2 linked regions of the Homo sapiens genome follow. The gene in region 1 interacts genetically with each later gene. Each region holds a gene or a part of one and is shown on either strand. Other genes may lie near its edges.

What was found.
Region 2: changes in LEO1 (region 1) and UMPS together harm fitness more than expected from each alone (negative genetic interaction), as found in Homo sapiens cells (one large-scale study listed by BioGRID).

What each region holds. Positions count from the first base shown.
Region 1 is NC_000015.10:51,953,993-51,959,121, forward strand, and holds part of LEO1 (RNA polymerase-associated protein LEO1), read right to left. Parts: intron 4,835-5,129; coding exon 4,750-4,834; intron 584-4,749; coding exon 489-583; intron 1-488. UniProt on the Homo sapiens protein: Component of the PAF1 complex (PAF1C) which has multiple functions during transcription by RNA polymerase II and is implicated in regulation of development and maintenance of embryonic stem cell pluripotency.
Region 2 is NC_000003.12:124,740,442-124,744,773, forward strand, and holds part of UMPS (uridine 5'-monophosphate synthase), read left to right. Parts: intron 1-1,710; coding exon 1,711-1,825; intron 1,826-3,473; coding exon 3,474-3,643; 3' UTR 3,644-4,332. UniProt on the Homo sapiens protein: Bifunctional enzyme catalyzing the last two steps of de novo pyrimidine biosynthesis, orotate phosphoribosyltransferase (OPRT), which converts orotate to orotidine-5'-monophosphate (OMP), and orotidine-5'-monophosphate decarboxylase (ODC), the terminal enzymatic reaction that decarboxylates OMP to uridine monophosphate (UMP).

The DNA.
Region 1 (5,129 bases):
GCGCGATCTCGGCTTACTGCAACCTCCGCCTCCTGGGTTCAAGGAATTCTCTGCCTCAGCCTCCTGAGTAGCTGGGATTACAGGCGTCCGCCATCACACCCAGCTAATTTTTAGTAAAGATGGGGTTTCACCATCTTGGCCAGGCTGGTCTTGAACTCCTGACCTCGTGATCCACCCACCTCGGCCTCCCAAAGTGCTGGGATTACAGGCGTGAGCCACCGTGCCTGGCTCTTTTTTTTTTTTAATAATCCATGCAGGGTGGTGCACACCAAGTAGTCCCAGCTACTTGGGAGATGGGAGGATCACTTAGGACTAGGAGTCTGAGGCTCCACTGAGCTGTTATCATGTCATTACACTCCAACATGGGCAACAGAGTGAGACCCCATTTCTAAAACTAATAATAAATTTAAAACTAAAAAGTATTTCAAAACTTGATCCCTCTGACCCGTTCTGGGTATGTCAATACCCTTCAGGCGTTTTGTGCTCACCTTCCATCTGACCACTTGACTATCCGAGCATTGCTTTCTTTAATTTCATTTCCTTCTTCATCTCGGCGTATCCTCCATCTTATAGTATTTTCTACCTGTTTCACAACACAAGTACTTTAGAAAATTATAGTTTAAATGACTCTATGCATCTTGTTTTTCCTCAAGAGGCACATAATCACAGAATAAGCATACAGAGGTGACAGATGTATGTGTGGCAGGAGAATGAACAACACTGAAACCCTCTTTAATCACCTAGAGAGGTTGGATAAATTAAAAGCAGGGAAAAAAATATGCTTAAGTGAATTTCTGAGCTCCTAGAATCATAATCATAGAGAAAGCTTAGAGCATTTGAGCAGATGGCAGATACTAAATGTACACTAACCCCGAGATGTGTTAAGACAGTAAGAATTACAAGGGTCAGGCGATAAAACTTGAGTCCATGTGAGGCAGAAATTTTTTTTTTTTTTTTTTTTTGAGACGGAGTCTTGCTCTGTCGTCCAGGCTGGAGTGCAGTGGCGCAGTCTTGGCTCACTGCAAGCTCCGCCTCCCGGGTTCACGCCATTCTCCTGCCTCCGCCTTCTCAGTAGCTGGGATTACAGGCGCCCACCTCCAAGCCCGGCTAATTTTTTCATATTTTTTAGTAGAGACAGGGTTTCACCGTGTTAGCCAGGATGGTCTCGATCTCCTGACCTCATAATCCGCCCGCCTGGGCCTCCCAAAGTGCTGGGATTACAGGCGTGAGCCACCACGCCCGGCCGAGGAAGAAATTTTGAAGTGAAACCCCTGTATAAAGCAAGTTCTCTCACAGAGCTAAAAACTCCATAAAAATGAGACCAAAAACTCTGCCTATTGGCACAGAGAGATAAACTTCCCATATATGAATAAGGATAAATAAGTGCCCTATGAAAATGAAAACCCCAGATTTCAATAGGTTTAGAGCCTAACTATCTTACCTGCATGGTGGGGAAACACCAGAGTTGGCAAATGAAAACCACTGTTACTGAAAGTAAAGTCAGTGGGATCTCCAGGAAAACATGGCATACTAAACGCATGCAGTTTATCACTGCTGCCTCCTGGAAACCCACTAAAATGACAATGAAGAGTAAAAACAGGACATACAAGGATAGAAAGAATGAGAATGAAGCTGGCAACAGACAGAAGCCAACAATGTGAAAACTGCCAATGCCAAGACCATGCTTCCCTCTGCCTGTTCCCCCAGTGTCAATCCTAAACACAGCTGCTCCCAGTCCCACGGAGATCGTCTGGATCTCCACTCCTTTAGCTGCAAATGTCTGTGCAGCTGGGTCCTAATGATTCCCCCTTCCAGTTTTTCCCCTTTCCCTATTTATTCCTCACAAATAGCTATAAAGTGTGCTGATTGAATAACTCCATCATATTTATGAATTAAACATGATGTCATACCTGAAATTTGTTTCAGAATAGTCTGGGGAAGCTGGGGTGGGGAATATGTAGATGACAAAAGATTGTTAACTCGACAACTGTTGAAGTGGGTCATGGGCACATGAAAGAGTTCATTATATTGTTTTTAATACATTGGTGTATGTTTGAAATTTTCAGATTGAAAACAAAACAATCTGTCACTATTCCTGTCTTCCATCTCATACAATAGGTTGGCCACATATAAATACACAAATATGCCGGGTGCAGGGCTCACACCTGTAATCCCAGCACTTTGGGAGGCCGAGGCAGGCAGATCACCTGAGGTCAGGAGTTCAAGACCTACCTGGCCAACACAGTGAAACCCCATCTCTGCTAAAAATATACAAAAATTACCCGGGCATGGTGGCATGTGCCTGTAATTCCAGCTACTCGGGAGGCTGAGGCTGGAGAATTGCTTGAACCCGGGAGGCGGGGGTTGCAGTGAGCTGAGATTGCGCCACTGCATTCCAGCCTGGGCGACGACAGAGCAAGACTCCATCTCAAAAAAAAAAAAAAAAAAACCACAAATAGGCCATTATTAATTGAGAAGCCGTTCTAAAAAATGCTTTCTATTATATAAAGTGATTCAAATAGTAATGATGCTATAATAGGACACATTGCTAGGTCTTAACCTATCAGGATGAAGGACACATAATAGTATTTCTGAAGACAGGGGACCTCAGAGAGGTACATAAGCTGTACCTGGTTCCCTGGTTCCTTGTTCTTAAAGAATTAACTACACCATGCTTTAAGACTGGTCAGCGTAGTCTTAAACATCACTCAAGAAAATAAGGGTCCAGGGTTATTTCCTATCACACACCAAGGTTTTAAGACAACAGTTTATGTTAAACACCAACATTTTGTAGTCTGATGCACTGAAATTTTAGGGTAAAATACATATTTATAAATTTTTTTTTGGGGGGGAGACAGGGTCTCGCTGTGCTGCACAGGCTGGAGTGCAATGGCACAATCACAGCTCACTGCAGCCTCAAACTCCTGGGCTCAAGCAATCCTCCCGCCTCAGCCTCCTGGAGTAGCTGTGACTATGGGCATGCGCCATCTCTGCTGGCTAATTTTTTTTTATTTTTAGTAGAGACAAGGTCTTGCTCTGTTGCTCAGGCTGGTCTGAAACTCCTGGCCAGTCTTCTCACCTCGGCCTCCCAAGGTACTGGAATTACAGATATGCGGCACCATGCCCGGCCTTTGAAGTCTGACACCCATACTAGAATCTGGTATCACATGGTCTAAAAATATAATAGATATATTGATACTAGCTGTAGCATCATGACAGAAAGTAAGAAAAAGGAAAAAGACAAAATTAAATAAATTGATAAAAAGTGAATAAGGAACTACTATATTAGTTTATATGTATATGACAGGAAACAATGAAAAGTAGTAGAATTAAAGCCAGAGGCACTAAAACAACCATGAAAAATTGATACTGCTAAGCCTAAATCAATACATCCATGTGTCCCAAAGAAATAATATTAACAGATGGGCTAATAAACAGATGAGTAGATGGGTGGTGGAGGGAGGACAGGAAAAAAAAATAGTGTAAGCAGTATATCTGTTGACTGTGTGATCTTGAACAAATTATTAGCACCTGTTTATCTCAGTTTTCTTATTTGATTTGCATTTCCATTAAGAGGAGTAGTGAAGTCTCACTGAAAAGCTTTTGGATAGAAACCATCTTATATCAAGGTTATTTAGGTAGTTGTTAATATACCACATTGAAGAGATGGTACTATTAAAAATATAAAAATTCAGTGCCTAAAAAATGCCAGACTATCCCTTTCTAACAATTTAATAAGGTACCAAGGCCAGGCGCGGTGGCTCACACCTGTAATCCCAGCTCTTTGGGAGGCCGAGGTGGGTGGATCACCTGAGGTCAGGAGTTCGAGACCAACCTGGCCAACATCGTGAAACCCTGTCTCTACTAAAAATACAAAAATTAGCTGGGCATGGTGGTGCATGCCTGTAGTCTCAGCTACTTGGGAGGCTGAGGCAGGAGAATCACTTGAACCCAGGAGGCAGAGGTTGCAGTGAGCTGAGATCATGCCACTGCCCTCCAGCGTGGGCGACACAGCGATGCTCCTTCTCAAAAAAAAATATATAAATACCCACTAGAAAATAAGAAATTTACAGGAAATCCTTCGGATTTAAGAATTGAAAATGCATAATTCCAGTTTCAGTATCATGCATTCAACCACCTCTTGTTCCCTTGTGCAACTCAATTCTAAAATGTCTACTTGGCCAAGTGCAGTAGCAATCATGCCTGTAATCCCAGCAATTTGGGAGGTCAAGGCGGGAGGATCACTTGAGCTCAGAAGTTCAAGATCAACCTGGGCAACACAGCAAGACCTCATATCTACAGAAAAAAAAAAAAGGCTGGGCATGGTGGCATGTTTTCTGTAGTCCCAGCTACTCAGGAGGCTGAGATGGGAAGATCACTTGAACCCAGGAAATTGAGGCTGCCAAGAGCTGGGTTTGTGCCGCTGTACTCCATCCTGAACAACAGAGCAAGACCGTGTCTCAAAATAAAAAGATGAAACTTCTGCTGAACCTACATCCTCCTTACTTAAAAGATTAGAGGCCCTCCTTTGATAGCGTGACCAGATGGTATAAGGTATCAAAGAGAAGCATTAATGGGAATTTAGTACAATAAAATTCTTTCCTAATAGTCAACAAAAGCAATCAAAAGAACACAGCCATATAGTGAAGTGTTAGGTAAAAAAATCACTTTCAAAAGCTCAAGTTTCAAGTTAGTATCTCCAGGTTTTACTTTATAAAAGAAAAAAAAGGAAAAAGCATGAAATGGTACCTTTAATTTTAACCTGGTTCTACCTTCTTCATCCAGCATTTCTTCATCTTCAAATTCATCTTCATAATACTGAGGATCAAAAGGTCTACAAATTGTTTTCCAAATAAACTATTAATCATATTTTATAAAGAATATTACTGCTATGTAATAACATCTCTATTAATAAACACCATTATATCAAAAAATCATAATATAATTTTAAAAATCATAATGATCAATATCTTCATGCTTAACTTCAAGGAAGTAGTAATTGTACTTTTTTCTTTTTTTTTTTTTTTGAGACCGAGCTTTGCTCTTGTTGCCCAGGCTGGAGTGCAATGGCACGATCTCGGCTCACCACAACCTCCGCCTCCCAGGTTCAAGCGATTCTCCTGCCTCAG
Region 2 (4,332 bases), on another chromosome or scaffold:
AGTTAGTCAAACAAACACTTACTAAATCTACCAGGACTTTAAGATAATGTCTTTTTCATCTTACCATGAATTGAGAGAAGATGAGAAGAGCTTCCCAGACATGCAGTTTCTCAGAATCTCCCAAGTCCTACAGAGATGCACATTCCCATGACAGCAGCCCACATGCAGTGGCTTTCTCTTATTCTTGTCAGATATTTTAGAATATAATATTACTTTAAAAAAATTGCCATAGGGGGCTGGGCGCAGTTGCTCACACCTGTAATCCTAGCACTTTGGGAGGCCAAGGCGGGAGGATTGCTTGAGGCCAGGAGTTGGACGTCATAGTGAGATCTCGTCTCTACAAAAAAATGAAAAAGAAAATAACCAGGCATGGTGGTACGTGCCTATAGTCCCAGCTGCTTGGGAGGCTGAGGTGGGAGGATCGCTTGAGCTTGAAGTTCAAGGCTGCAGGGAGCCATGATCATGCCACTTTACCTCAGCCTGGGCAAGAGTAAGAGCCTGTCAAAAAAAATTAAAAATAAAAAGCCCCAAGAAAATCCCCATGATTTTTTTAAAAATGAAATCCCCAAGACAATCCCCATGTGAAGATTCTAGAAGTAAAGGATTTCCATTTTTTCATATTATTTCAGACTATTTGGAGACTTAACTCATATGGCCCTACAGTCAGGTTTTAACCCTATCCCTGAATTGACTATAACTGTCTGATTTCCCAAGTCTCAAAATCACAGGGGCCATGAGTCAGTTTTAATATTTGGCATTCTGGGAGTCTGGGTCTGGCTCAAGGACAAGACATGACTTGTTTGTTGGCAGTAGTACTTGGTGGCAAGAATGAATGTATCAATGTGTGTCTCAGGTCTCGAAGTACCGAGGCTGGAGTGCAGTGGTGGTACTGAGTCTGGTCTCCGGGAAGTATCAAATAAGAAGGGAAGTATGGGAGTCACGTCTCGGGGAAAGTACCTACCGAATCAGAAAGCCAGGCAGACCTTCTAAAGAGACTTTTATGAATGTGAGATAATAGTATAGAAATTGGGGAGACCAGTTGATGTTACAGAAGAGGGAAAGTGGTAGAGGTGAGATTTCTTTAGCTCTTGAAAGCGTAGCTGTTCTTTACATGACAGCTGCCTTTGGATATGGAGTACCCCGTCTGTAGATAGTCAGTAAGCCTTGAATGTGGTTTCATACCATTATAATATGTTCTAGAGTACTCGCCTCAAATCCTTTTTGGAAGTAGGTGGGTCACCAAGCATTATTAGAAATAAGAAATTATGCAGCATCTTGATTTTAGATGCATATAGTATAGGATTTCTGCTTTACGTATGGTTTATTGCGGGAAGGGAAGGGAAAGGGTCATCTCAGAGTCTTAATGAAGCAGATGTGTTTTATTATGGTTTCTATCTAAGATGACCTGTTTCAGATATAGTAACTTTATATATATGGAATGAGAAAAGGCATCTATAATACAGCAAAGTTTCTAACTAGATAATAGAGCATAAGCCAGGCATGGTGACTTACAACTGTAACCCCAGCACTTTGGGAGGCCAAGGTAGGAGGATCCCTTGAGCCCAGGGGTTCAAGACCAGCCAGGGAACATAGGGAGACCTCATGTCTTTTTTTTTTTTTTTTAAGTTTTGAAAAAATAGAGCATATTTTTACTTTTATTCTGTGTGATTAACTGTTTTCTTATAATATGTCCTATTACATTCCATTTAGGTTAGAATGGCTGAGGAGCACTCTGAATTTGTTGTTGGTTTTATTTCTGGCTCCCGAGTAAGCATGAAACCAGAATTTCTTCACTTGACTCCAGGAGTTCAGTTGGAAGCAGGAGGTAAATCTGGTCACTGGTCGTGGCTCTTCCAAAAATGCTTCTTTACCCATGGCAGGCAAAATAAAACTTTGCATATTATTATACACTTGCTTAAGAAAAGCCTTCTTAGTCTAGAACAATAATGAATGAGCCCTTTGGTAACTATGTATCTTTGGACAAGTCAGTTTACTTCTTTTAGTCTAATTGTCTGTAAAATGGGGATGATAACAGTATTGACCTCATAAGGTAATCAAGATGCTTTAATGAGATAACATGTAGAATATTTAACACAATGTCTTGGCACAGAGTAAACACTCTGTACTTATAAGCCCTTATTCGTAAGCCCTAATAATTGTTTGACTAGATATTATAGTTAGGGTCTAGGCTTTTAAGAATACTTAAAGTATCTTGGATTTGGAAGATAATAAGCCATTTAACAGAATGCTTCTGAAACAGCGGAATTTAATAAAAAAGCAAAATTTAAGGATTCGGGTTTATGGATAGTCTGTGTGACCACTTGATGGGGTTCTTGTATATGGTAGTGGTCAGGTTAGACTTGCTCAGCAGTGCCTTGTGGTGATTCTAAGATGTGTGCTAAAATTTTCTTCAATTGTGAGGCCAATCTTTATTGTATTTTTTTGATATTGAACCTTTCTTTGCAACATATGAGTTTTACTTCTTTTTTTAATATATTGTTAAGCTACAGATGATCTAAAATTTGACATTGAGGGGGTGAATATTTAGGGCAACTTGAATTTATGCTTCTGGAAAAAAATTACATGAAAAAATAATGATAAAATAAATAAGGCTGGGTGCGGGGGCTCACGCTCGTAATCCCAGCACTTTGTGAGGCCGAGGTGGGCAGATCACCTGAGGTCAGGAGTTCAAGACCAGCTTGGCCGACATGGTGAAACCCTGTCTCTACTCAAAATACAAAAATTAGCCGGGCGTGGTGGTGCACGCTTTTAATCCCAGCTACTCGGGAGGCTGAGGCAGGAGAATCGCTTGAATCCGGGAGGCGGGGGTTGCAGCGAGCTGAGATTGTGCCATTGCACTCCAGCCTGGGTGACAGAGCAAGACTCTGTCTCAAAAAAATAAATAAATAAATAGGGCGGGGCGCAGTAGCTCATGCCTGTAATCCCAGCACTTTGGGAGGCTGAGGCGGGCGGATCATGAGGTCAGGAGATCGAGACCATCCTGGCTAACACGGTGAAACTCCATCTCTACTAAAAAATACAAAAAATTAGCCAGGCGTGGTGGCAGGCGCCTGTAGTCCCAGCTACTCGGGAGGCTGAGGCAGGAGAATGGCATGAACCTGGGAGGCAGAGCTTGCAGTGAGCCGAGATAGCACCACTGCACTCCAGCCTGGGTGACAGAGCGAGACTCCGTCTCAAAAAAATAAATAAATAAAAATAAATAAATAAATAAATAAATAAAATAAACTTTACCATTGAAAAGGAGTTGGTGATCATCTTTCTCCATTTGACGTCTCTGGCCTACCCAGTGAGTCTCTTCAGCTCCTGTTTTTACGCAGTTGCTGTACAAAAGGGGAACGAAAGTAGGGGCATGTTTTTATTTAAAGCTGGTTAGATACTTTTTCAGAGAAGTCATGTGACAGGTTTTCTGATTTTTGTATTATGTGAAACAACAATTTTTGTGTTTCTTGCAGGAGATAATCTTGGCCAACAGTACAATAGCCCACAAGAAGTTATTGGCAAACGAGGTTCCGATATCATCATTGTAGGTCGTGGCATAATCTCAGCAGCTGATCGTCTGGAAGCAGCAGAGATGTACAGAAAAGCTGCTTGGGAAGCGTATTTGAGTAGACTTGGTGTTTGAGTGCTTCAGATACATTTTTCAGATACAATGTGAAGACATTGAAGATATGTGGTCCTCCTGAAAGTCACTGGCTGGAAATAATCCAATTATTCCTGCTTGGATTCTTCCACAGGGCCTGTGTAAGAATGGGTTCTGGAGTTCTCATGGTCTTTAGGAAATATTGAGTAATTTGTAATCACCGCATTGATACTATAATAAGTTCATTCTTAAGCTTGCTTTTTTTGAGACTGGTGTTTGTTAGACAGCCACAGTCCTGTCTGGGTTAGGGTCTTCCACATTTGAGGATCCTTCCTATCTCTCCATGGGACTAGACTGCTTTGTTATTCTATTTATTTTTTAATTTTTTTCGAGACAGGATCTCACTCTGTTGCCCAGGATGGAGTGCAGTGGTGAGATCACGGCTCATTGCAGCCTCGACCTCCCAGGTGATCCTCCCACCTCAGCTTCCAGATTAGCTGGTGCTATAGGCATGCACCACCACGTCCATCTAAATTTCTTTATTATTTGTAGAGATGAGGTCTTGCCATGTTACCCAGGCTGGTCTCAACTCCTGGGCTCAAGCGATCCTCCTGCCTCAGTCTCTCAAAGTGCTGGGATTACAGGTGTGAGCCACTGTGCCCAGCCTAATTGCAGTAAGACAAAAATTCTAGGGCACCAAGAGGCTAAAGTCAGCACAGCTTTTCTTGTGT